Linked DNA regions of Homo sapiens. The protein of the gene in region 5 purifies or fractionates together with the protein of the main gene of each other region. This does not show direct contact. Each region holds a gene or a part of one and is shown on either strand. Other genes may lie near its edges.

Region 1 (3,500 bases), on a different chromosome or scaffold from region 5:
ATACAGAACCATTCTTAGTGTTTTTCTTTGAGATTGGTATAAACTCTTCTAAGAATATTAATTTTTTGTCCTGTGGTCAAATATTTAACCAGTTTGCCTTTTAATTTTGTATATAGTATATTATTACTTATCTATAGATTTTTTTTTTTTTGAGACAGTGTGTCACTCAGTCACCCAGGCTGGAGTGCAGTGGCACAATCTCGGCTCACTCTAGCCTCCTCCTCCAGGGTTCAAGTGATTCTCATGCCTCAGCCTCCCAAGTAGCTGGGATTACAGGCACATGCCACCACGCCTAGCTAATTTTTGTATTTTTAGTAGAGACAGGGTTTCTCCATATTGGCCAGGCTGGTCTTGAACTCCTGACCCAGGTAATCTGCCCGCCTCGGCCTTCCAAAGTGTTACAATTACAGGCGTGAGCCACCACACCCAGCCTGGATTTTTAAATTTGAGATTTCTTCTGGTGCTGTGATGTTTAGAAGGCCTTCACCATCCAGAGATTGGTTAAATACTCACTTTCATTTCCTTCTGATTTTTACCGTTTTACACTTTATATTTAATTCTTTAATTTGTATTGAACTTACTTTGAAGTACCAAACCAATATGTTTAATGCCTTTGTATATCTGAGTTCCAGATCTGTATTTCCAGCTACCTGTTAGGCTATGTGGATAGTCCCTGTACGCCATGCATCTGCGTACACCCAGATTCACTAAGGAGAAAGCTTGAGGTTGTACTTACCACTTTAATACTTTTCTCCACCCACATTTGATCAATCCCCAAGTTTGGCTGATTCTGCCCCAGGGGTGATAAGAGTTCTTTAATCAGTCTTCTAATTCAGATTCCCCTTTTAGTTTTTTGCCAGAGTCCTTGAGTCCTTGAGTAATCCTTAGAGTTGGCTTCAGTTTTTCCCTTGCAGAAAAGTTATCAGAGTTGTCATAAAAAAAAAAAGCACTGATTTTCAAAATATGGTTCCTTTAATTGCCTGTGTTAGAATTACCTGGCAGTGGTTAAAAAGGTAGAGTCTCAGGTCCCACCTAGACCTGCAGATCAGTGTGTCTGAGGGATGGGCCTGGGAACCTGAAGTTTATCAAGTACCTCAAGAGATTTATATACAAACTTAAGGGGAGACAATGCCTAAGTAAATTCAGTCTAGCTTTCTGACATGCTCTTCAAGACACCCACACCCCCACTCTGACAGCCTATTCTTTTAGGCTTATCTCCCACAACACGACCCACCCACCTGGCACTGTGACCCTACAATAATTCTCTGTTTCCTGGACCTGCCCAGTTCTTTCCTGCCTCTGTGCCTTTGCTCATGCAGTTACCACAGCCTCATGCTCCTCCCCTTCCCCACCCTCTTGTTGAAATCCTTTTCCTTAAGAGCCCAAATCAAATGCTACCTTTTTAAATTTTTTTAATAAAAAAAAGCCTTTTCTAATTTCTTCTACTTGAATCAGTGGCTGCCTCCCCAGTCTTTATACTTAACACTTGATTTTTGCTTCATTTCTTACCTTACTTAATGTTGTCACTATTTATAAATTATTGCTTCCTTGTAAGATTACAAGCCTTTTAGGTATGAGAACCTTTCCCTTCCTTTTCATTTTGTGGCCATTATGCACATATAAACAATTAAGAACTCATTTTATTTTATTATTTTGAGACACAGTTTCATTCTGTCCCAGGTTGGAGTGCAATGGCGCAATCTCAGCTCACTGCAACCCCCACCTCCTGGGTTCAGGTGATTCTCATGCCTCAGACCTCCGGAGTAGCTGGGACTACAGGCACGCGCCACCACGCCTGGCTAATTTTGTTTTTTTTTTGTATTATTAGTAGAGACAGGGTTTCACCATGTTGGCCAGGCTGGTCTAGAACTCCTGGCCTCAAGTGATCTGCCCACCTCAGCTTCCCAAAGTGCTGGGATTATAGGCATGAGCCACCGCACCTGGCCAAAGTACTCATTTAGTACATGAAATATATCTGATCTTGCAAACACACTTTTATATAATAATGTTTGGCTTTGTATCACACATAGAATAAAATTAAAATCCTTTAGCATTGTTATTAATCCGTATTTAATCTGACTACTACTCATCTCTGTGTCATCGCATGCTTCTCACTTACTTCCTAGCTGTATTATTCCTTCCTCAGGGCCTTTGCATTTGCTTTCCTCTACCTGGAAAACTCCCCCATCTATTGTCTTCACCTTGCTGGCTGCATATGTTCTCCCCATCATTCAGGTTTCAGTTCAAATGTCATTCACTCAATGAGGCCTTCCCTGATCACTGCCTAAAGAAGCTGTTCGTGTCCCTGTTCCTACCACAACTCCAGTTACTCTTTTTGTATTTCCTTCACACCACTAATCACAGTCTTTAATTGTCCGGCTTCTCCAGTGGAATGGAAATTTCATGAGAGTAGAGACCATGTCTGTCTTTTTTTTTTTTGAGATGGAGCCTCACTCTGTCACCCAGGGTGGAGTGGAATGGCACGATCTTGACTCACTGCAACCTCCAACTCCCAGGTTCAAGAGTCTCCTGCTTCAGCCTCCCAAGTAGCTGGGACTCCAGGCACCTGCCACCACACCCAGCTAAATTTTTTATTTTTGGTAGCGACAGGATTTCACCATGTTGGCCAGGATGGTCTGCATCTCTCGACCTCATTATCCGCCTGCCTTGGCCTCTCAAAGTGCTGGGATTACAGGCGTGAGCCATCGCGCTCGGCCTTGTCTGTCATTTTTAACATTATATCTTCAGCACTTGGAATACTGCCAAAGACTTGGTAAATGCTAAATAAATATTTGTTGAATGAATGAATAAGCCTTGAAGATGGACTTTTCATTTGGACAAGTCTTGTTTTGTTTTGCAATCCAAAGTGTTGTATTTTTTTTAACTGGACAACAGCTGAGGTCGGTCCATCTGGGTTCAAATCAGGTAGCAGTCTCTGAGGAGTTCGGAAGGTAGCAGGACAAAAGTTTGGATACTGTGACAACCAGGATTAAGTTCCATCTGAGTGCAAGTTTTCTAAGGTGTTTCCAGGATCCAGGCCACTATTTTCCTACCACTATAGCCATCTACTTCCCAGATTGTTACTCTGGATTATACTAGTCTATCAACTCCTATTACATTTTCAAAAGCCAGTGTGGCAAAACTAAAACCCAATTACTGGAATCCACAAACAACCAGAAGTTTTCTTCTGTTTTCATTCTCTAGGAGAAAAATTAGAAAGCTATCTAGAATCTTCAAGAAAAAATGAAATGATTTTCATTATACTTACTATTAACACATGCTCTGAAATGTGTTACTGTTTAGACACACTGTTTAGACAGTGTACTGATTAGAAAGATTTTCAGCAACAGCTTTAAACAAAAGGTTTCTTATTAACATCTAGTTGAACCAGACATTATAATGAATTAGTTCTAATTTCTATTTCTTTTCATTGGTTAGTCTTTTTTAATTCCATTTTTTTTCTTAATGCTGGCTTGAAGTTTTATTTAAAATAATGCTTT
Region 2 (3,500 bases), on a different chromosome or scaffold from region 5:
CTGCAAGACAGAGAAGCTATGGATGATAAACCAGGTGTGAGTGGTCAGCTTCCAAAAGGAAAAGCTCTAGAGCTGGCTTTGAAGAGACCACGGCCACCTGTTTTGTCTGTTTGTAGCTCATCAGAGACTCCCTATCTATTAAAAGAAACTAACAAAGGAAATGGTCAAGGTGAAGATAGAAACTTGTTGTACTATTCAAAGTTAGGCTTAGTGATCCCATCCAGTGGATCTGGTTCTGGAAACCAAAGCATTGACAGGAGTGGCCCACTTGTTAAGAGTCTCCTCAGACGGTCATTGTCGATGGATAGCCAGGTTCCTGTCTATTCACCTTCCATAGATTTGAAATCTTCCCAGGGATCATCTTCGGTGTCCAGTGATGCACCAGGGAATGTGTTGTGTGCTTTATCTCAGAAGTCATCTTTAAAAGATTGTAGTGAAAAAACAGCCCTAGATGACAGGCCTCAAGTGCTACAACCGCATCGCCTCAGGTCCTTTAGTGCTTCTCAGTCAACAGACAGGGAGGGAGCTTCCCCTGTGACTGAGGTGCGCATAAAGACTGAGCCCAGCAGCCCGCTGTCGGACCCCTCGGACATCATCCGCGTCACTGTGGGAGATGCGGCAACAACAGCAGCTGCCTCATCTTCGTCGGTCACAAGAGACCTGTCTCTGAAAACAGAAGATGACCAAAAAGACATGAGCAGACTCCCAGCAAAAAGGAGGTTCCAAGCGGACCGAAGATTGCCGTTTAAGAAGTTAAAGGTGAATGAGCACGGGTCTCCTGTGTCAGAAGATAATTTTGAGGAAGGCTCAAGCCCTACTCTCCTTGATGCAGATTTTCCAGATTCTGATTTGAATAAAGACGAATTTGGTGAGTTGGAGGGGACGAGACCAAACAAAAAATTTAAATGCAAACATTGCCTTAAGATCTTTAGATCAACAGCAGGTCTTCACCGTCATGTTAACATGTACCATAACCCAGAAAAGCCCTACGCTTGTGACATCTGTCACAAGAGGTTTCACACCAACTTCAAAGTGTGGACACACTGTCAGACCCAACACGGCATAGTGAAGAACCCATCACCAGCCTCTAGTTCACATGCTGTTTTGGATGAAAAATTCCAAAGAAAGCTGATTGACATAGTGAGAGAGAGAGAAATTAAGAAGGCCCTGATCATTAAGTTAAGGCGCGGCAAGCCTGGTTTTCAGGGACAGAGTAGCTCCCAAGCACAGCAAGTCATCAAGAGGAACTTGAGATCTCGAGCCAAAGGAGCTTACATTTGTACTTACTGCGGAAAAGCGTACCGCTTTCTCTCTCAATTTAAGCAGCATATAAAAATGCATCCAGGAGAAAAACCCCTTGGAGTAAATAAAGTTGCTAAACCAAAAGAGCATGCTCCTCTTGCAAGTCCAGTAGAAAACAAGGAGGTTTACCAGTGCCGCCTCTGTAATGCTAAGCTCTCTTCTCTCCTAGAGCAAGGAAGCCACGAGCGGCTGTGCCGGAACGCGGCCGTCTGCCCTTACTGCAGCCTCAGGTTTTTCTCGCCCGAGCTGAAGCAAGAACACGAGAGCAAGTGTGAGTATAAGAAGCTGACCTGCCTCGAGTGCATGCGCACCTTCAAGTCCTCTTTCAGCATCTGGCGGCACCAGGTTGAAGTCCATAATCAGAACAACATGGCACCCACCGAAAACTTTTCTTTGCCCGTTTTGGACCACAATGGTGATGTGACTGGTTCTTCAAGGCCCCAATCCCAGCCTGAGCCCAACAAAGTAAACCACATCGTCACCACAAAAGACGACAACGTGTTCAGTGATTCTTCAGAACAAGTTAACTTCGACTCGGAAGATTCCTCTTGTCTTCCCGAAGACCTTAGTCTTTCCAAGCAACTGAAAATCCAAGTCAAAGAGGAGCCTGTGGAGGAGGCTGAAGAAGAGGCACCCGAGGCCAGCACAGCCCCCAAAGAAGCGGGTCCTAGCAAAGAAGCCAGCCTGTGGCCCTGCGAGAAGTGTGGGAAGATGTTCACGGTGCATAAGCAGCTGGAGCGTCACCAGGAGCTTCTGTGCTCTGTGAAACCATTTATTTGTCACGTGTGCAACAAAGCTTTTCGCACTAATTTTCGACTCTGGAGTCACTTCCAATCGCACATGTCTCAGGCTTCAGAGGAATCGGCACATAAGGAATCTGAGGTGTGCCCTGTTCCCACAAACTCTCCCTCTCCACCACCTCTGCCACCGCCACCACCACTGCCCAAGATCCAGCCTCTGGAGCCTGACAGCCCCACAGGCCTGTCCGAAAACCCAACTCCAGCCACAGAAAAACTGTTTGTGCCCCAAGAATCAGACACCCTTTTTTACCATGCCCCACCCCTTTCAGCAATCACATTTAAAAGACAGTTTATGTGTAAACTTTGCCACAGGACATTCAAGACTGCATTTAGTCTTTGGAGTCACGAACAAACACACAATTGAAAGACCAACACTTTTTACCTATGGGAGGCAGTCCCCAGATTTCAACCTGAATTGTGAAATGTGTCATAAGAAACAAAATATTTTTTAAACAAGAATAATAAAGGTTGGAGATTGTTACGCTTGAAATTAAGTTGGAGGCAAATTGATAATTACTTAGTAATGTCCTTAACTTTAGAAATACAGCTTTTAAAATATTGTGGTTCTGGACCTTACAAGAACAAGATGGTTTGATTTCATTAATGTTGAAATTGGATTAGTCTTGATTGTGTGCATGGTTCCTCATTCCATGGTGTCAGTATAATCATTTAATTGAGGTTTTTGGTTTTTTATTGATTAGTGGAATACTGTCGAAGTATTCCTTCTTTTAATTATTTTAGACACTTGAGTTCTAGTTAAATCTTAACCATGTTCTTAAGTCCAAAATAGGAAGAAGTGGAGTAGTTTGCAGTATTGATTTATATCTTAGACTACTTTAGCAATAAAAGATAAATCTCAACTTTAATAAGTTATCCTGACACTTGATAAAAATAAATATTTGGTATTTTGTGGTCATGTAAAACTTCTTTTTGTATGAAAATTGTGAGAAATTTAAATCAGCAATAGTAACACTTAGATTTTTATAAACTAACAAAAACTTGCTCTCAGTCAATATAATAAATGATAGTTAAACTCTAAGGAAGACCTGGGAAATGAAAACAATTTATGGAAGTCCCCTACAGTCAGTTTATAAGGGCTTCAGTAGTGATAGACATTGTTATAAAAACTTGTACCATGTTACATGTACACTGCACCACAGTCTAAATTCAGACCAGCATTTGAAGGACTGCACATATTTCATTTCCTCTGATTTATGCTGTCACAAATTGAAAATCTGAGTGTAGTTAGGACAAAAAACAAAGCTAACCATATGGCACTAATTTTGATTTTAACATTAGTGTAACAAATAAGGTCGGGACATATATTTACATAGATCCCAGACACTCAAGAATTAGCACAGCTGATGTAAAATTCTAAATTACCATTTACTTCCAGAT
Region 3 (3,500 bases), on a different chromosome or scaffold from region 5:
TCTTCAATTTTATTTGAAAGATGCATACTCTCTGATGATGCCATTTCTATTCCAAGAGTTCAGAAGAAACCGATTTTTTTATTGTTTCCCTAATACTAAGTATAATTGCATAATTTGTTCACTTTTAATTTGGAAAGAGCGATCTTCGATGTGTTAGAATCATTTCCAGTCATGTCAAACTTTACTAAAATCTTGGGAAATGATATAAAACACTCAACCTCTCTATTTCTATATCAACAACTTCCTTTGTTGTTTTAGGAGAAACTTACTTTTTTTCCTTTTGAGGTTAAAAATAATAAGTTATTACAAATGTTCATATGATCCTTTTCTTAGGCCCAATTTTAGGAATATATAGTCAGAAGAAATGACTGGAACAGGCTTTCTTATATCAATCTTGCTTAAAGGAATGGGAGAAGGAAAATATTTTTCTTAGAAATAGATTATCAGAATAAAATACCAAAAGGACCAAGGAATAGCTCAGTTTAAAAATATGATTTTAAAGCGTTGTTGCTATTACATAAAGATTCTCATACTATTACTCAGATTCCAATTTTCATTTTAAAATTATGCTTTTAATCTGGTTGCATAATGCCTCACACTTAGGCCAACAAATACTAGTTAAGTTTTATTGAAATTTAATTCATTTCTTTTATGGCATGCATCTTCTGATATTTTCAATGTAAGCTGTCTGCTTATAGCCATCATATCTAAAATGGAGAACACATTTGTGTTCTCACAGAATGTATGCTTGTTCTGAAAGATGATGTGGTTACAGTAACCTCCCTTGAAAACAGTTAGTAGGTATTTAAAATGTCTTACACAGAATATTACAGTAAACCTATTTTTTTTCATGGAGTTTTGGTCAGTTTCCTGTCTGGTAAAAAAAAAGTTAATAGTGTTAGCTTTTGGGATTTTGGGAGGTTTGTTTTTGGCCTAGAAAAAAAATTATGTTGTGTAAATCCTAAATGCGGTAGAATGAAAAAATATACTCGTATTAAGCAGAAATGTGTGTTGTTTCTCATGGAAAAATAAGCAGCTATTTTGTATCTGAGGTACATCTTTGTCTTTGAGAAAGTATATTTTATTCTGATGTTGTGAGACTGAGAAATACTGACGTGGCTCTCTTTGATCTTTGTCTCTCAGTGTGGCTGTTACCAGGTCCAGAGATGTGCCTTCCTTTGGGCCTCCCATTCCTAAAGGGGTCACTTTCCCTAAGTCAAATGTGTTCAGGGACTTCCTTTTGGCGAAAGTGATTAATGCAGAAAATGCTGCTCATAAATCGGAGAAGTTTCGGGCCATGGCAACTCGGACCCGCCAGGAATACCTGAAAGATCTGGCAGAAAAGAATGTCACCAACACCCCTATCGACCCTTCTGGCAAGTTTCCGTTCATCTCTCTGGCTTCCAAGAAGAAGGAAAAGTCTAAGCCATATCCAGGAGCCGAGCTCAGCAGCATGGGGGCCATTGTATGGGCAGTCCGGGCTGAAGACTACAACAAGGCCATGGAACTAGACTGCCTTTTAGGGATCTCCAATGAGTTCATTGTGCTCATTGAACAGGAAACAAAGAGCGTGGTCTTCAATTGTTCCTGTAGAGATGTGATAGGGTGGACTTCAACTGACACCAGCCTCAAAATCTTCTATGAACGAGGAGAATGTGTTTCAGTGGGTAGTTTTATTAACATTGAGGAGATCAAAGAGATTGTCAAAAGGTTGCAGGTGAGTCTCTCCTTCCTCTTCCTTACATGCAGTTTCTCTTTCATAAAGTTTTCAATACAGACTAGAGCCAAGTTACTGAACCTTGTGCTCTGTTATTAGCTCCTCTGAAAACTCCCTTGATGTGTGAAGCAAACAGAGTTTATCTCATGCTTGTGTTTTCCATGGATGTTTCGGAAAAGTAGAACAAATTGGGGAAGACACATTTACTCTGTGTGTGTGTGTGTGTGTGTGTGTGTGTGTGTGTGTGTGTGCGTTCATGTTCAAAACCCATTTGCATGTGACCTGTTCCCTGGTGCTGCAGTCCAGTCATCTGGTGGTGGTGTTGAAAAGAATTGCTTGAGTATCTGCTGCCTTGAATTTTACAAAGGCTAAATGAGTAGCAGTATATGGTTTCTATTTACTGCCAGCTCCCTGTAGGTCTCTGGTAGAGGTTTCCTTGTAACTTCAGGGAAGCCGTTGAGCTTTTTGGATGCAACAAGTATATTCCTTTTGGCCTAATGAATAGGAGATTAGTGAAGAGGAAATAACCAGACTGCTCTTCAGCTGGCAATAAGGTATTCAGAACTAACCCTGCTTGCAATGATTTTCCAGTTCCATGTCCACCACTTAATACCCTATTGCTTTAAACCACAGTATCTTTTATTTCCTTGTCTAGTTTGTTTCAAAAGGCTGTGAATCGGTGGAGATGACTCTGCGAAGAAATGGGCTAGGACAGCTTGGCTTCCATGTCAACTATGAGGGCATTGTGGCGGATGTGGAGCCCTACGGTTATGCCTGGCAGGCAGGGCTGAGGCAGGGCAGTCGCCTGGTGGAGATCTGCAAGGTGGCGGTAGCCACTCTGAGCCATGAGCAGATGATCGACCTCCTGAGAACATCTGTCACGGTGAAGGTTGTCATCATTCCCCCGCATGATGACTGCACCCCGCGGAGGTAGGTCTGAGGAGACAGCTGTGGGCCTGAGACTCGAGTGCAGGGTTTGTGTACCATGTAGAACATCTCTTAGCAGGTAGTGGAGTAGGGTGTTGTGAAGAACAATAGGTTACATGTGATGCTGAATGTTTCATCCATGGAGTCTGACTCAGGACGAAGCTCCCTTTCAGTGTGTGGTGACAGCAGCTGGAAAGAGTGACTAAATGGGACCATTCCCAGGATTTACATCACTGGATTTATAAAGTTGCCATGACAGATAGAGAAGTCTGGTAATATCTATCTTAAGAATTTTCCACTGGGAGCTGAGAAACATTGAACACATTGAACATTAAAAGACACTCAACATCTCAAATTGTCAGATTGCTTTTCTTCTATGTTCCATGATGCTCTTATTCTCTTCTCTCTCCTAATTGCTGCCCAAAACTCAGCAATTGTTTGGACCTTTGCTGTCTCAGTCTGGCAGCTGCTTTCCTAACTGTATCTGCATGTGCTAGGGTTTGGCTTCAGGTGAGCTGCCCCTGCTCATGGTGCTTTGGCATTTTGGTTCCTAGTCTTTTCCAGAAGGGAAAACCTAAGAGCTCCCTGCCCCACCCAACCCCCCACAGCTCCTGCCAAGCCAGCAGCACTGTTGAAAATTTAATTTCTCTGTCTCTGGGGAGGTTTATTGGTGGAAGAAATTTAATCAACTGTTTATTTTCTCCTTTGGACATGCACATGCTATTTTTGCTAGTTTTTAAGATCTCTCTTTTTAGTTTATGCCATTATTTTCTAAGAATTTCTCTTAAGCTTTGGCAATTGATTCTTAGGCTTTCTAAAGCCAAGACAGTGTTCTGTGTCCTATTTTGCCACTAAG
Region 4 (3,500 bases), on a different chromosome or scaffold from region 5:
CCCCCCAAAGTGCTGGGATTACAGGCGTCAGCCACCGCGCCCGGCCAGGGGCTCTATTTCACAACCTCTTGCAACATGAGATAATTTACTTACTGTATGAGCCGATCTGAATCCATTTTCAGTTACTTCTAGCTGCAAGCACTGTAATTAATTCAATTATTAATCTAGATGCTATATCTTATAACTCCTGCAAAAGCAATGTCACATCAGAGACCCCTGTTTCCCATGAACACTGTAACTCAGGGATCATTCGAGAAGGAGGGCAAATATAAAACTCTGTACTGCCCTCTCATCTTTCAGGACTGTGCCTATGTCTACCACCTCCCAACCAATGTTACTATCATGAGAACAATTTCAGAGACAGTAAAATAATCCGTCAAAGATTTTTTGCTAAGCCAAGGGAAATCCTCTAGATCATAGACAAATTAGCAACACATAAACAAGGCTGCCTTATGAATAAGAGCCACATTATGAAATAATGGAGGGCAGTGAGGGTTCCTCTCCCATTCCCCAAATATTCGCCCACTACTACCTGGCTATCGCCCTAGGTTCTCCAAGTGGAGATTCACCCTTTTGACCTGAAGTAATTATTGTTAAATATAAATGCCCATTTAGGGTTAACATGTTAAATCTTACTAACACTAAAATTTCTAGTGAAAGCTTATCAAATCTTTCCTGACAGCAAAATTTGAAGGGATGAAATTGGAAAGAGAACATTACAGTGAACACTTGATGTCTAAGAAAGGAGGGGAACACAAAAGGGGCGAGAATGTTGAAAGGTGCCACAAGGGTCTGGAAAAATTATACTTACTTCCCAATTCTGTCTCCCGTTAGAACTCACTACATTTATTCAGCTTGTGGAGGTCATGTGACCATAAGTAATAACATTCTCAGCCAATGAGGACCCGGGTGCCCCTTCAGAACCTGGCCTGGGGCCAACCCTAGGAGTTAACTCCAAAGTGGAACATCAAACCAAAAGCTTCAATATCGCATTGAAATCATATCACTCTCCGGGCCAGGCGGGAGGAACAGGAAACCACACAGTCTGTGAGATCAGCCAACTCCTTTTCAGCACTCAGTAAGACATGGAAGCCAGATGGCCTTTCCATCTGGACACCAGGCAGGTCGAATATTCCCCCAACTCCCTACCTACCACTGTCTGGGACCAGTGGTTTCACTTGAAGAACCAACCAGATATAAAACTGTATTAGCATAACCACCAAATGATTTTACAAATAACTTGGCTTTATAGGAATTCTGCATTTTAAACAAGCAGAACTTCTGTTGTTACTTTCACAAAGACTTAGTTTTTATGATACACTTTTTTAAAAGGATATAATCATGGCGAAAATTGCAAAAATTGTTTTATTTTCCAGATGGCTAAACTGAGATAGAAGAAAGGAGAACATTATCAAGATCTTGATGTTTATCATGGGCAAACCACCTGCCAACCTCTCCCCCTAAAGCCTCTTTCCATGGGGCCTTCCCACTTCCCCTGTTCTTCATCCAACGCCTCCACTGACCTTGAGTGGTGTTGAGTTTCTATATAGTACTGAAGCTCCCTTTTTCCCCCAAGAACACTTGGTTGAAAATTACCTCTAGTCCAGTTTTACATGGTGCCTACAAGTTGTATTTCTTCCATTTTCTAGACATAGTGACGAGGTAAAAATCTGAATAGTACCAACAGGTATAGTGTGTAGACATGCTTCCCTTCATCTCTTGACTTCCACTTCCCCAAGCTGCTTTCCCAAAAATTATCCACTTCTTGAGCATCCTTCCAGATACAGTTTATACATATATAAAATACATTTTAAAATTTATAGATTATTTTGCTCTTTAAATTGCAAAAGGGGGCTGAGCACAGTGGCTCACACCTGTAATCCCAGCACTTTGGGAGGCCAAGGCAAGAGGGTCCCTTAAACCCAGGAGTTGGAGACCAGCCTGGGCAACATACTGAGATCCCGTTTCTACCAAAAAAAAAGAAGAAAAAAATTAGCCAGGCATGGTGGCACACACTGATACTCCCAGCTACTCTGGAGGCTGAGGTGGGAGGATCACTTGAGCCTGGAAGGTTAAGCCTGCAGTGAGCCATGATTGAGCAACTGCACTCTAGTCTGGGTGTCAGAACAAGACCCATCTCAAAAATAAAATAAAATAAAATAAAATAAAATAGAAATTACAAAAGCACAGACAATTCCCAGAAAGTAATTTTCAGAGAATTTTATAGGAATACAATACAAATGGCAGAAATGTCCAACATACAGGCAGGTCTGGGGAAAGAGGCAAGGTTTCTTCTCACGGTGGTACCGAACCCCAAGAGATATTCTCCTGATTTCTAGATTTGCCATCTTTTCTGAACCAATTTTAGCCTGTATTCCATCTTGAAGCAACAGCTTTCCTAAAATCAGTACTCACTGAATTAAAATAACATTTCATCATCTGTATGGAAACAATTTTTTAAGCTTCAAGAGGAAGCCCAGAGCTTTAGCAATTCAGGATCTAATGATCAGTCCATCTTTGCCCTATCCATATGCTTCATTATTTTGTAGACTCTGAACCTGTCTGCCTTTGTCCTTGTAGACCAAGATGTCTTCATAACTAACCAAATGAAAAAAAACATTGCTCCTAACGGTTAACAGAAGGCTCCTGAGAAACATCATAATCTCAGCCTTGGGTAACTTGAACATTCTAAATTGTTTAAATCAAGTATGTGACAGGTTTGCTAAAACAGAGCATTAGCAATCATGCATGTAGTAACTAAATCCCTAGTAAGAGCAACAAAAGTGATCTCACTAGGAAGGTTTGGTGGCTGCCACTGTCAGCCTCATTTAAACATTAGCTGCTTTCAGGCTCAGCAGTTCCTATATTCCAATCACTCTCTCCCAACCTCTTATTCAGTTCCTTCTCTTTAAGTCAGGATTCTTCACTCAGACAGCCTGATAGGCAAGTACTTGCAGGCAGGCAAACATGGGTTTGAATCCTGGTTCTATCACTAAATAGCTGTGGGAACTGAGCCAAGTGGCTTAAACTCACGAAGCCTCATTTTTCTTATATGTAAAATAAAAGTAATAAAAATGGCTCATTTCACTGGGTCATTACAAGGGTTAAATGGCATAATATTTGTAAAGCACTAGACACAATGTCTTTCAGCAGGACCAGCTACGTAATTTGTGAAACCCAGTGCAAAATGAAAATGTAAGGTCCCCAGTTCAAAAAGAATTAAGATTTTCAAGATGGTGACAGCACAGCATCAAACCAAGTGTGGACCCCGTGGCACTGCATGGGTGGCAGGCCATGTGGTCAGCCCTGCCTTTCGGATGATAAACACTCAATAGATGGTAGCTGTCATCATCTCTTACCACCCTCACAACTCGTATTTGAACCTCACCCTCCCCTCAGGCTCTCTTCAACTTGGAAAGTTTTATGAAATCATTCCAAAAACAGGCACTGGTGTCTCAGAAGCACCCAGAGTTTATAAGACAAATAACTCACCAAAATGA
Region 5 (3,198 bases):
GTGACCTTGCCTCACCCATCCTCGCTGTCATGGACCATGAGGGCCATGCCTTTGTTTGCTTTTGTGGCATCATGAAACGCCTGGCCGCCAACTTCCACCCTGACGGCCGCGCCATGGCCACCAAGTTTGCACACTTGAAGCTGTTGCTGCGACACGCTGACCCTGACTTTTATCAATACCTGCAAGAGGCAGGCGCTGATGACCTCTTCTTCTGTTACCGCTGGCTGCTGCTGGAACTCAAGCGTGAGTTCGCCTTCGACGATGCCCTCCGCATGCTTGAGGTCACTTGGAGTTCGCTGCCCCCTGATCCTCCTGAACATGAGGTAGAGCTGGTTGGACCCCCCAGCCAAGTGGCAGACGCTGGTTTTGGTGGCCACAGGGGGTGGCCCGTGCGACAGAGGCACATGCTGAGGCCTGCTGGTGGAGGAGGTAGTACCTTTGAAGATGCTGTTGACCACCTGGCCACAGCCAGTCAGGGGCCTGGTGGTGGGGGGCGTCTCCTGAGACAGGCCAGCTTGGATGGCCTCCAGCAACTCAGGGATAACATGGGCTCCAGGAGGGACCCTCTGGTCCAGCTGCCCCACCCAGCTGCCCTTATCAGCTCCAAGTCCCTCTCTGAGCCTTTATTGAACTCCCCAGACCCACTGCTCTCCTCCTTTTCCCACCCTGATTCCCCATCTTCCTCATCTCCACCATCCACCCAGGAGGCCTCTCCCACTGGTGATATGGCTGTAGGATCCCCCTTGATGCAAGAGGTAGGCTCCCCGAAAGACCCTGGAAAGTCCCTGCCACCTGTACCACCAATGGGCCTGCCCCCACCCCAGGAGTTTGGCCGGGGGAACCCATTCATGCTGTTCCTCTGCCTGGCCATCCTGCTGGAGCACCGCGACCACATCATGCGCAATGGGCTGGATTATAATGAGCTGGCCATGCACTTTGACCGCCTTGTGCGAAAACACCACCTGGGGCGCGTCCTGCGCCGGGCTAGGGCTCTCTTTGCTGATTACCTGCAGTCAGAGGTGTGGGACTCAGAGGAGGGGGCTGAGGCCACAGCCGCATCTTGATCAGGCTTTCTCAAGCCCTCCATCGGCCCCACCAGATCTCCATTCTTTGCCATGAGGGCCAACACATGAGACCCCACCTCCCTCCCTGCCTGCCAGCCCTAGACTTGTTGGAGCATAGAGCCCTTCCTCCCCAGGCCTAAGTATGTGGAGCTCTGCTTTGGCACTGCCCCGCAGAGGCCACGCCTATTTATTCTGTTTCTGTTGTTTTGTTTTTAACAACTATACTTTGCACACATGAAGGTCACTGTGGTTTGTGTGTTTCTCTGCCTCCTCCCTGGGTTTTGCTGTAGATGGAGTCCTCAGGGGCCCTTTACCTGATGGAGGGGAAATACTTCACTTGGTGGAGAGAGGCTCCAGCTTCCCCCTTGTGATGGGGAGAGTGGATGCTGACAATCAGTTCCCAAAGGTGAGCCCAGGTGGAGCACTGCTTGAGGAAGGCCTGAGTCTGTTTTTTTGGTACATCCATCGGCCTGTAAGGGTCTGTATTATGGCTGTGAATATATGTTTTCAGGACAGCCCCCTGGATGAGAGATAAGAGAGTTCCTGGCTCAAAAAAGGACAAGATTCTTTACTGAGATTGGGAAGTATGGGCTACTTAGAAACGTTGGAGCAGCCACCCCTGGCATTCCACATGTCACCATTTCTAGGATCTTGGCCTCTCTGTGAGGTTTATGCACCAATGCTGGCAGCCCTGGGCAGGGGCCTCGGCCTCCTTTTTGTTTTCCACTTCAGACAGGTACCGTGCAGATGTTAACAAGGTTTGAGCGAGGTGCATCTCACACAAGTGTGAAAGCCCAATCATCACATTGTTGAATTACAAAAGGATCTAGGGCTCCTATTCTTGTCACTTGCTTTGGAGCCAGTTTGAAAGACTGGCCTAGCCCATGCCTAGCGGCCCTAAACTGGGATTCCAGCTCACAGCACCTGTCTTAACCATTTCAGCAGTAGAAACCACTTATTTACCTTCTCCATCTCACTAATATGGACAAACAACAAGCACTGATAAAACGCAGGCCCTAATAGAATTCACTTCGTTATTTGGAGGATAATGATCAAAAAAAGGTCCTTTTTCCCACTGACATGCTCAGAGGGTGGGATTCTCTCACAGGCCAGGTGCTGTCATCCACAAAGGATGGGTGAAATAACTGGGGTCCTCAGGTCACGGTCTAGCCACACCAGCTTCTCCCAAGTACTAACCAGGCTTGACCCTGCTTAGCTTCAGAGGTCAGACAAGATCTGGCATGTTCAGGATGGTATGGCTGTAGACCAGGCTGGGTTCTGGCCAGAGCTGTTGCACTAGGCAATGCTGCCAGAGATGAGGAGGCATCAGGGCAGTCATCCCTTCTGCTGTTTGCCCCAAGAATGCCATACAAACCTGGGGATGACCCTTAAAAGTCTCCCGTCACCCCCAGTATTGGGGGGAAGCTGACTATTCCTCAGATGATAGCCCAGTCACTTGAAGAACAGGACAAGACTATTCTGTGTCTAGGGGGCTCAAGCACTGTGTGTGGGTCTAACGAATGCATTTTGTGGAAATGGGCTCAGACTCCCCAAAGGGCCATCCAACCTATGGGAGTGTCTGGCCTTCTGAGGTCCTGAAATGTCTCTTTTGTCAGTAAACAGCTAATACCCTCTGGGATGCATTCTGTGATTTATGAGCTCAGGTGTTTGAAGGACCAGACAAGCCAATTCTGTGGATAGTAGTTTGGGACCTCTGAGAGATAGAAGAGTCCTTTCTGTGAATAGGAGGCTCAGATACCCTGAAAGGCAGAAACCTCTAATATTCCTCTAGGATACTTGGGGTTTCTGGTTCCTGCAAAGATGGCAGACAGCACAAGCTACTGATTCCTTTGCCCGAAACCAACTCTGGAGAAACTAGAGAGGGAAACATGGGTTCCAGAAATTGCAACATAGCAATGAGAGACCCATGGGGAAATGGAAGGCTGTCTTTAACTGGTGTGTGTTTTGACGGGCGGATGGCCAGAGGCAGTAAATAGAGGATAGGTTAGGGAAAAAGATATTTAAGTTCTGGCTCTCACCTCTCCCCTATATTGCCTTGGGGAGGTCCTTGTTTGCCCCCTTCATTGCATTAATCATCCAAACCACTGGTACACATGTCTGGGGGACTAGGATC
Region 6 (3,500 bases), on a different chromosome or scaffold from region 5:
CAGGCATGAGAAAGATACTTCTATAATACACCTGGATCTGTTGTGCTATGCCTTAGCACATGGCCCAGTACCAATTCTTAAATTGCTAAAAAATGTTCCGCTTTCATAACAAGCCACCAAATTTAATACAAGTGAGATAGAAGAGAGCGTGTAACGTGGCTCAGAGATGCCTAACATCCATTTTGTCCTGATATGGAAACCATAAAAACATTCTGAATGATGTCAACAAATCAAAAGATTTTCAGAGGATACTGAAAACTACTTGGCAGAAAGCCGCCTCAGCTTGACCCACTTATGAATTCTACAGAAAGAAAAGCCAGAGAGCAAATGCTTCACTCTTATCTTCATAAAGAAATAAATAACCAGAAACAAACATGAAGATTTTTTTTCCTAAAAAAACAAATTCCAGTACCACTACTACAATTAATATCCACTTGACCCAAAACTTCTGTACAACTCATTAACTGGTATTTTTAACAAAAAGCTTAAATCACCAAGGAAAGATTAAATTATCATCAACATGTTTAAAAAACTTAATATGCCTTGAGTTTTAAACTTTCATCAAGTCAGTTAAAATTAAAGTCTCATACTAAAGGAGTTAAACCTTCACTATTAAGAAAAGTCAACTGTACATAGTAATTTATTCTCCAAGACTTGTGGACAAGCAGAATTTTGCTTTTCAGTCAAATTCTGTGACAACTGATAATCCATAATTATAGTAATCAAAATAGTTAATAGGCTAGAACTCTCTTTTACTAAGCAAAAGAAGTGACAGCATTAAAAATAAATGATACAGTAAAAATAATGTCCCGCCTTCTACGGTGTCAGCTCACCTGAGGTATAAGTCTATCCAAGTACTCAACTCGATTGCCATGAGAAGGGTGTGTAGATAACCATTCTGGCATCTTGGGTTGGCCATGCAGGCTATCAACGAACTCCATTTGCTGCCAAAACACTGAACTGGCTCTTATGTCTGCACAAGCCTAAAACCAAAATTAGTAAAACCACACAATGAGCTCAGTTTTGAGGATTTTTTAAAAACTACTACTTTATTTTTTTTTAATTCTATTATAATTATACTTTAAGTTTTAGGGTACATGTGCACAACGTGCAGGTTTGTTACATACGTATACATGTGCCATGTTGGTGTGCTGTACCCATTAACTCGTCATTTAGCATTAGTTATATCTCCTAACAACTTTATGTCACTACATGCTTTAAAGTCATTTTCTATCATCACTTTAATAAAAGTAGAACATGCCCATTGCTTAGAAAAAGACCCACCTCAAACAACATGGTATCACAGTACTGAAATAACAGAATGCCTGCCCTTCCCATATACAACATTCACAATAACCCTGCTAACCAAAGATAGCCCACTATTTTCAGTATGATGGATATTAAGAACATGTATTAAGGGTAAAATCTTTTACACAAATTAAAAATTCTGTTTTCATAAAGTTTTAAAATATAATGTTATTAAACTGTATTAAAGAAACTTTACTTCTATGCCACTAGAACAATCAGAAAAAAACTTCAAATAAACATAAAGAGATGACATGTTTATTATGCACATCAATTTACCCAATTTTCTCAATGTATATGGACAATATATTTAATTCATATACCTTATAAAACACAATACCTTATAAAAGTACAATATAAAAGTACATTAGTACTTTTTAAAAGAATATATGTAGATCTTGTGTATGTACAATTCCATCATACACTCATATACATACTCATACGTATATACTTGTATATGCACAGAACATATCTGAGAAGCTATTTAAGAAGCTGTTAACTACCCTAAGAATGTACCTGAGGTATCTGATAGTGGAGAGGGAGCAACACTTTTATTTCTGAACTATATTAAAATACATTATTTTATAATTAAAATTATTTTTAAATCCTCCATAAGGTGGATTATTAACAAATATTTTATTAATTTGTTCAATTTATTCACATTTCTTAACTTATTCTTTCTATAATAAGTAACTGGAAAACAAGTGGTTATATTTCCCAATGATTTTATTTTTGATTAAAACTAAGAAAAAATATATATACTATACTGACTAAAATGTACTCTCAAAAAGATTTATAATAGTGTAATTGTGAAACCCCAAAAGGCAAATATATTAATAGAACACTGCATGCTAGTCAACAACCATGCTACATCATTTCTTAACAAATACCATTAAAGCATTTCCAAATGTTAGCAAAATAAAAAATTTTAAATTCAAGTAAATCTTATTCAATATTTAAAGAAATATAATTCCTTAAGACCTCTGAGTATTCTAAGTTGAAAAGAATTCAAGGTACTTTATACACTACTGCACAGATATGGATATACATGTTTATATGTATATAAACAGGAATATACAAGATAAATGTATATAACAAACATAAATATTATTCATGTTTATACACATATAAATACATATCTATATATGCAAGATGTGTGTGTGCTTATGTGTAAAATATGTATGTAACATATGTATCTATAAAGAAATAATTATTTGATGCTGAATTAGAAACACCCAGAGGACTATGCCCCTCAATAATAGGTAATCACATTCACAATAAAAATACAGGCTGAGATTAACAAGTATTCTTCTCAAATAATTCATAAAAATATAAAATGACTTGAAAGAATTCTAACACAAACAAAAAACCCCTCTGAAAACTGGAAGATAAACATTTGAATGGACTACAAATTCACGAATTATCTAACATGAAGTTTGTCTGCTACACAAACCAAAGGCATACTTATCTAATTTTTTTAGCCTAAAACTGTTAATCAAAAGACAAAATATTTCCCTATTCAATCTCTAAGTAACACAGCTGAAGGGAATCTTTAAAGCAATATTTGATATGCAGAAATAGAAAAAGAAATTAATTATCCCTACAGACTAGAAAGTATTCCAAGCTAAAAGTATTAAAAGGGGACTTGAGATATCTACTTTAATGTTAAGATAAGAGTGTTGAGTTTGTCTGTACTTCTCAAACCCAGTTCAAAGAGCCACTAAAGTCAGATAATTTTGTTTCCAAAATGAGTATTTTATTTACATTTTTCCAATTTAGGAAAAATAAGTAACAGGTTGACATCAGCAAGATGGAAGAATAGGACGCCCTAAACCCTCCTTCCCCACATGAACACACTGATTCAACGATAATATACGAATTCCCTTTGTGAGAAATCCTGAAACTAGGTGCAATGCTTCTGCACCTGCACAAGTACGAAATGAACAACATCAAACCTGGTAGAAGACTGGAGACACCCTCTTGCCATAATCTGCGAGAGCAATTATGTACCCCCAATACAGCACCATATGATCATAAGAACACCTGCAGCTCCCCACCACTCCTTGGGGAAGGAAAAACTTGGCTTGTGTATCTAACATTCCAACTTTTCTAAGAGCTGCCCTAGGAACTGGCTTCTGTCTTGCCAGCCTTGTAGCACTGATGGAATCTAAAACGCCCTAGATATCTAGGGGCCA
Region 7 (3,500 bases), on a different chromosome or scaffold from region 5:
AATAAATAATTGGATTTCATTATAATTAAGAACTTCTGGCTGGGAGCTGTGGCTCACACCTGTAATCTCAGCACTTTGGGAGGCCGAGGCAGGTGGATCACGAGGTCAAGAGATTGAGACCATCCTGGCCAACATGGTGAAACCCCGTCTCTACTAAAAATACACAAATTAGCTGGATGTGGTGGTGCGTGCCTATAGTCCTAGCTACCTGGGAGGCTGAAGCAGGAGAATCGCTTGAACCCGGGAGGCGGAGGTTGCATTAAGAAAGCAAAAAGAGGCCGGACGCGGTGGCCCACACCTGTAATCCCAGCACTTTGGGAGGCTGAGGTGGGTGGATCACCTGAGGTTGGGAGTTCGAGACCAGCCTGACCAACATAGAGAAACCCTGTCTCTACTAAAAATACAAAAATTAGCCGGGCGTGGTGGCGCATGCCTGTAATCTCAGCTACTTGGGAAGCTGAGGCAGGAGAATCACTTGAACCCGGGAGGTGGAGGTTGCGGTGTGCTGAGATGGCGCCATTGCACTTCAGCCTGGGCCACAAGAGCGAAACTCTGTCTCCAAAAAAAAAAAAAAAAAAGGAAAAAAAAAGAAAGCAAAAAGAGGTCGGGCGCAGTGGCTCATGACTGTAATTCCAGCACTTTAGGAGGCGGAGGTGGGTGGATCACTTGAGGTCAGGAGTTCGAGACCAGCCTGGCCAACATGGCAAAACCCCATCTCTACTAAAAACACAAAAATTAGCTGGGTTTAGTGGCAGGTGTGTGTAATCCCAGCTACTTGGGAGGTTGAGACAGGAGAATCTCTTGAACCTGGGAGGCAGAGGTTGCAGTGAGCCAAGATAGCACCACTGCACTCCAGCCTGGGTGACAGAGCGAGACTGTGTTTCAAAAAAAAAAAAGAAGGAGAAAGCAAAAAGAAAAAAGTGGGAGAAGATATTTTCAGTACTGTACATATATACAGTAGTGAAACTTGTATCCAGCGTATATAAATACCCTTACAAACCCTTACAAAATGAACATGATAGACAGCTCAATTTTAAAAAATGGCAAAAGAGGGCTGGGCGCGGTGGCTCATGCCTATAATCCTAGCACTTTGGGAGGCTGTGGCGGGCAGATTGCTTGAGGTCAGGAGTTCGAGACAAGCCTGGCCAGCATAGCGAAACCCTGTCTCTATTAAAAATACAAAAATTAGCTGGGCATGGTGGTGTGTTCCTGTAATCCCAGTTACTCGGGAGGCTGAGGCAGGAGAATCACTTGAACCTGGGAGGCAGAGGTTGCAGTGAGCTGAGATTGTGCCACTGCACTCCAGCCCGATGACAGAGGGAGACTCCATCTCAAAAAAAAAAAAAAAAAGCAAAATACATGAATAAGCATGCCACAAAAAAATCCATATATGTCCAAGGAGTATGTTAAATGATGCTCAACTTAATTAGTTATTTGGGAAAAGCAAATTAAACAATGCAACACCATTACATACCTGCCAGAATGGAAAAGATGAAAAAGAAAGTGCCAGATATTGACAAGGATCTCTTGCAAACTACAGATAGGAGTCTAAATTGGTACAATGACTTTGGAAAACCATTTGGCAGAATCTGTTAAAGCTAAATATATGAATGCTCTGTGACTCTATAGTTATACCCCTAAGTATGGAACCAGAAAAGTGTACATATGCATGTAGATATACATGCTCAAGTCTTATGTTCTTAGCAGTAGTTTTTTTTTTTCTTGAGACAGGGTCTTGCTCTGTTGCCCAGACTGAAGTGTGCAGTGGTGATCACAGCTCACTGCAGCCTCAAACTCCTGGGCTGAAGCAATCCTTCCACCTCAGCCTCCTGAGTAGCTAGGACTACAAGGGTACACCACCACGCCTGGCTGATTTTTCAATTTTTTGTAGAGATGAGGTCTCATTATGTTGCCTAGGCTGGTCTTGAACTCCTGGCATCAAGTGATCCTCCTGTCTTGGCCTCCCAAAGTGCTAGGATTACTGGCATAAGCCACCATGCCTGGCCTAGCAGCACTATTTTTGGTGGTCAAAAACTGGAAACAGGCCGGGTGTGGTGGTTCATACCTGTAATTCCAGCATTTTGGGAGGCTGAGGCAGGCAGATCACGTGAGCCCAAGAGTTCAAGACCAGACTAGGCAACATGACGAAACTCCCATCTCTATTAAAAATGCAGAAAATTAGCCAGCATGGTGGTGCGTGCCTATAGTCCCAGCTACCCATGAGGCTGAGATGGGAGGATCACCTGAGCCTGGGAGGTTGAGGCTACAGTGAACAGAGATGGTACCACTGCACTCCAACCTGGGGGACCAGAACGAGACCCTGTCTCAAGAAACACAAAACAAAACTGCAAACAGCTCAAATGTCCATCTTCTGTAGACAAGTAAATTTTGCTGTGTTTATACAATAGAATATTATCCAGCAATGCAAATGAACAAACTATAACTACACACAGCTGCATGGATAAATGTCAGAAACATGACGTTGAGTGTGAGAAGCCAGATGCAAACGAGGACTCACTGTGCAATTCTGTGCATGTACAGTGGCCAGGTGAGGCTTATGGAGTGCTGAAATGCTCTGTATCCCAATCTGGAGGGTGGTTTTAAAAAAATGTTTTGAGCCAGTGCGTTGGTTCACACCTGTAATTCCAGCACTTTGGGAGGCCAAGGTGGGCAGGTCACTTGAGGTCAGGAGTTCGAGACCAGCCTGGCCAACATGGTAAAACCCTGTCTCTACTAAAAATACAAAAATTAGCTGGGCATGGTGGCACACACCTGTAATCCCAGCTATTTACAAGGCTGAGGCACAGAGCAGGGCTCTGTCTCAAAAAAAAAAATCATAAATAAAAAATAAAATTTAAAAAATACTTGATTTTAATTTTTTTAGAGATGGGGGTCTCGCTGTGTCACTCAGGCTGGTCTTGAACTCTTGGGCTCAAGCAATCCTCTCACCTTGGCCTCCCAAAGTGCTGGGATTTCAGGTATAAACCACCACGCCTGGCCCTGGAGGGTGGTTATACTTGTGTAGTAAAAACTCATGAAACCTTACACTTATGATTTGTGGTAGACTTTTCTGTATTAATGTTATATATATATATATTTTTTTTTCTTTTTTAACCTTTTTTTGGTAGAGACGGGCCCTGCTAAGTTGCCCAGGCTGGTCTTGAACTCCTGTGCTCAAGTAATCCTCCCTCCCTGGCCTCCCAAAGTGCTAGGATTACAGGTGTGAGCCACTGCTCCCAGCCTAAATAAAAAGTTTGCTTCTCCCCTCCTTTTCTCCCCAAAAACCAGGGTGTTATCAGGAAATCTACTTAACTAGGCCTAGGTGAATTGCAATAGGTTGCATTATGCTAAAAGCAAATGTACAGGTTGGGGGGGTGTTGTTGTCAGCTCCGCCATGTCGTGGACCTGCCCCCTTTTCAGGACACCTCACGTCACCTTCCATAACAGAACAGGTAACGTGACATATGAGGTGCACTGTTGACAAGTGACACTGGTGACAA

The links.
Region 1: the proteins of TBC1D25 (region 5) and LIMA1 purify together in Homo sapiens (affinity purification with mass spectrometry, with the first as the bait; one large-scale study listed by BioGRID). This does not show direct contact.
Region 2: the proteins of TBC1D25 (region 5) and ZBTB21 purify together in Homo sapiens (affinity purification with mass spectrometry, with the first as the bait; one large-scale study listed by BioGRID). This does not show direct contact.
Region 3: the proteins of TBC1D25 (region 5) and SIPA1L1 purify together in Homo sapiens (affinity purification with mass spectrometry, with the first as the bait; one large-scale study listed by BioGRID). This does not show direct contact.
Region 4: the proteins of TBC1D25 (region 5) and CREB3L2 purify together in Homo sapiens (co-immunoprecipitation; one large-scale study listed by IntAct). This does not show direct contact.
Region 6: the proteins of TBC1D25 (region 5) and OMA1 purify together in Homo sapiens (affinity purification with mass spectrometry; one large-scale study listed by BioGRID and IntAct). This does not show direct contact.
Region 7: the proteins of TBC1D25 (region 5) and CBY1 purify together in Homo sapiens (affinity purification with mass spectrometry, with the first as the bait; one large-scale study listed by BioGRID). This does not show direct contact.

Annotation. Positions count from the first base shown.
Region 1 is NC_000012.12:50,273,521-50,277,020, reverse strand, and holds part of LIMA1 (LIM domain and actin-binding protein 1), read left to right. Parts: intron 1-3,500. UniProt on the Homo sapiens protein: Actin-binding protein involved in actin cytoskeleton regulation and dynamics. Increases the number and size of actin stress fibers and inhibits membrane ruffling. Inhibits actin filament depolymerization.
Region 2 is NC_000021.9:41,989,861-41,993,360, reverse strand, and holds part of ZBTB21 (zinc finger and BTB domain-containing protein 21), read left to right. Parts: coding exon 1-2,466; 3' UTR 2,467-3,500. UniProt on the Homo sapiens protein: Acts as a transcription repressor.
Region 3 is NC_000014.9:71,669,976-71,673,475, forward strand, and holds part of SIPA1L1 (signal-induced proliferation-associated 1-like protein 1), read left to right. Parts: intron 1-1,143; coding exon 1,144-1,717; intron 1,718-2,372; coding exon 2,373-2,647; intron 2,648-3,500.
Region 4 is NC_000007.14:137,995,587-137,999,086, forward strand, and holds part of CREB3L2 (cyclic AMP-responsive element-binding protein 3-like protein 2), read right to left. Parts: intron 1-3,500. UniProt on the Homo sapiens protein: Transcription factor involved in unfolded protein response (UPR).
Region 5 is NC_000023.11:48,559,912-48,563,109, forward strand, and holds the end of TBC1D25 (TBC1 domain family member 25), read left to right. Parts: coding exon 1-1,064; 3' UTR 1,065-2,698; downstream 2,699-3,198. UniProt on the Homo sapiens protein: Acts as a GTPase-activating protein specific for RAB33B. Involved in the regulation of autophagosome maturation, the process in which autophagosomes fuse with endosomes and lysosomes.
Region 6 is NC_000001.11:58,505,227-58,508,726, forward strand, and holds part of OMA1 (metalloendopeptidase OMA1, mitochondrial precursor), read right to left. Parts: intron 984-3,500; coding exon 834-983; intron 1-833. UniProt on the Homo sapiens protein: Metalloprotease that is part of the quality control system in the inner membrane of mitochondria. Activated in response to various mitochondrial stress, leading to the proteolytic cleavage of target proteins, such as OPA1, UQCC3 and DELE1.
Region 7 is NC_000022.11:38,663,138-38,666,637, forward strand, and holds part of CBY1 (protein chibby homolog 1), read left to right. Parts: intron 1-2,408; exon of another isoform or gene 2,409-2,548; intron 2,549-3,500. UniProt on the Homo sapiens protein: Inhibits the Wnt/Wingless pathway by binding to CTNNB1/beta-catenin and inhibiting beta-catenin-mediated transcriptional activation through competition with TCF/LEF transcription factors.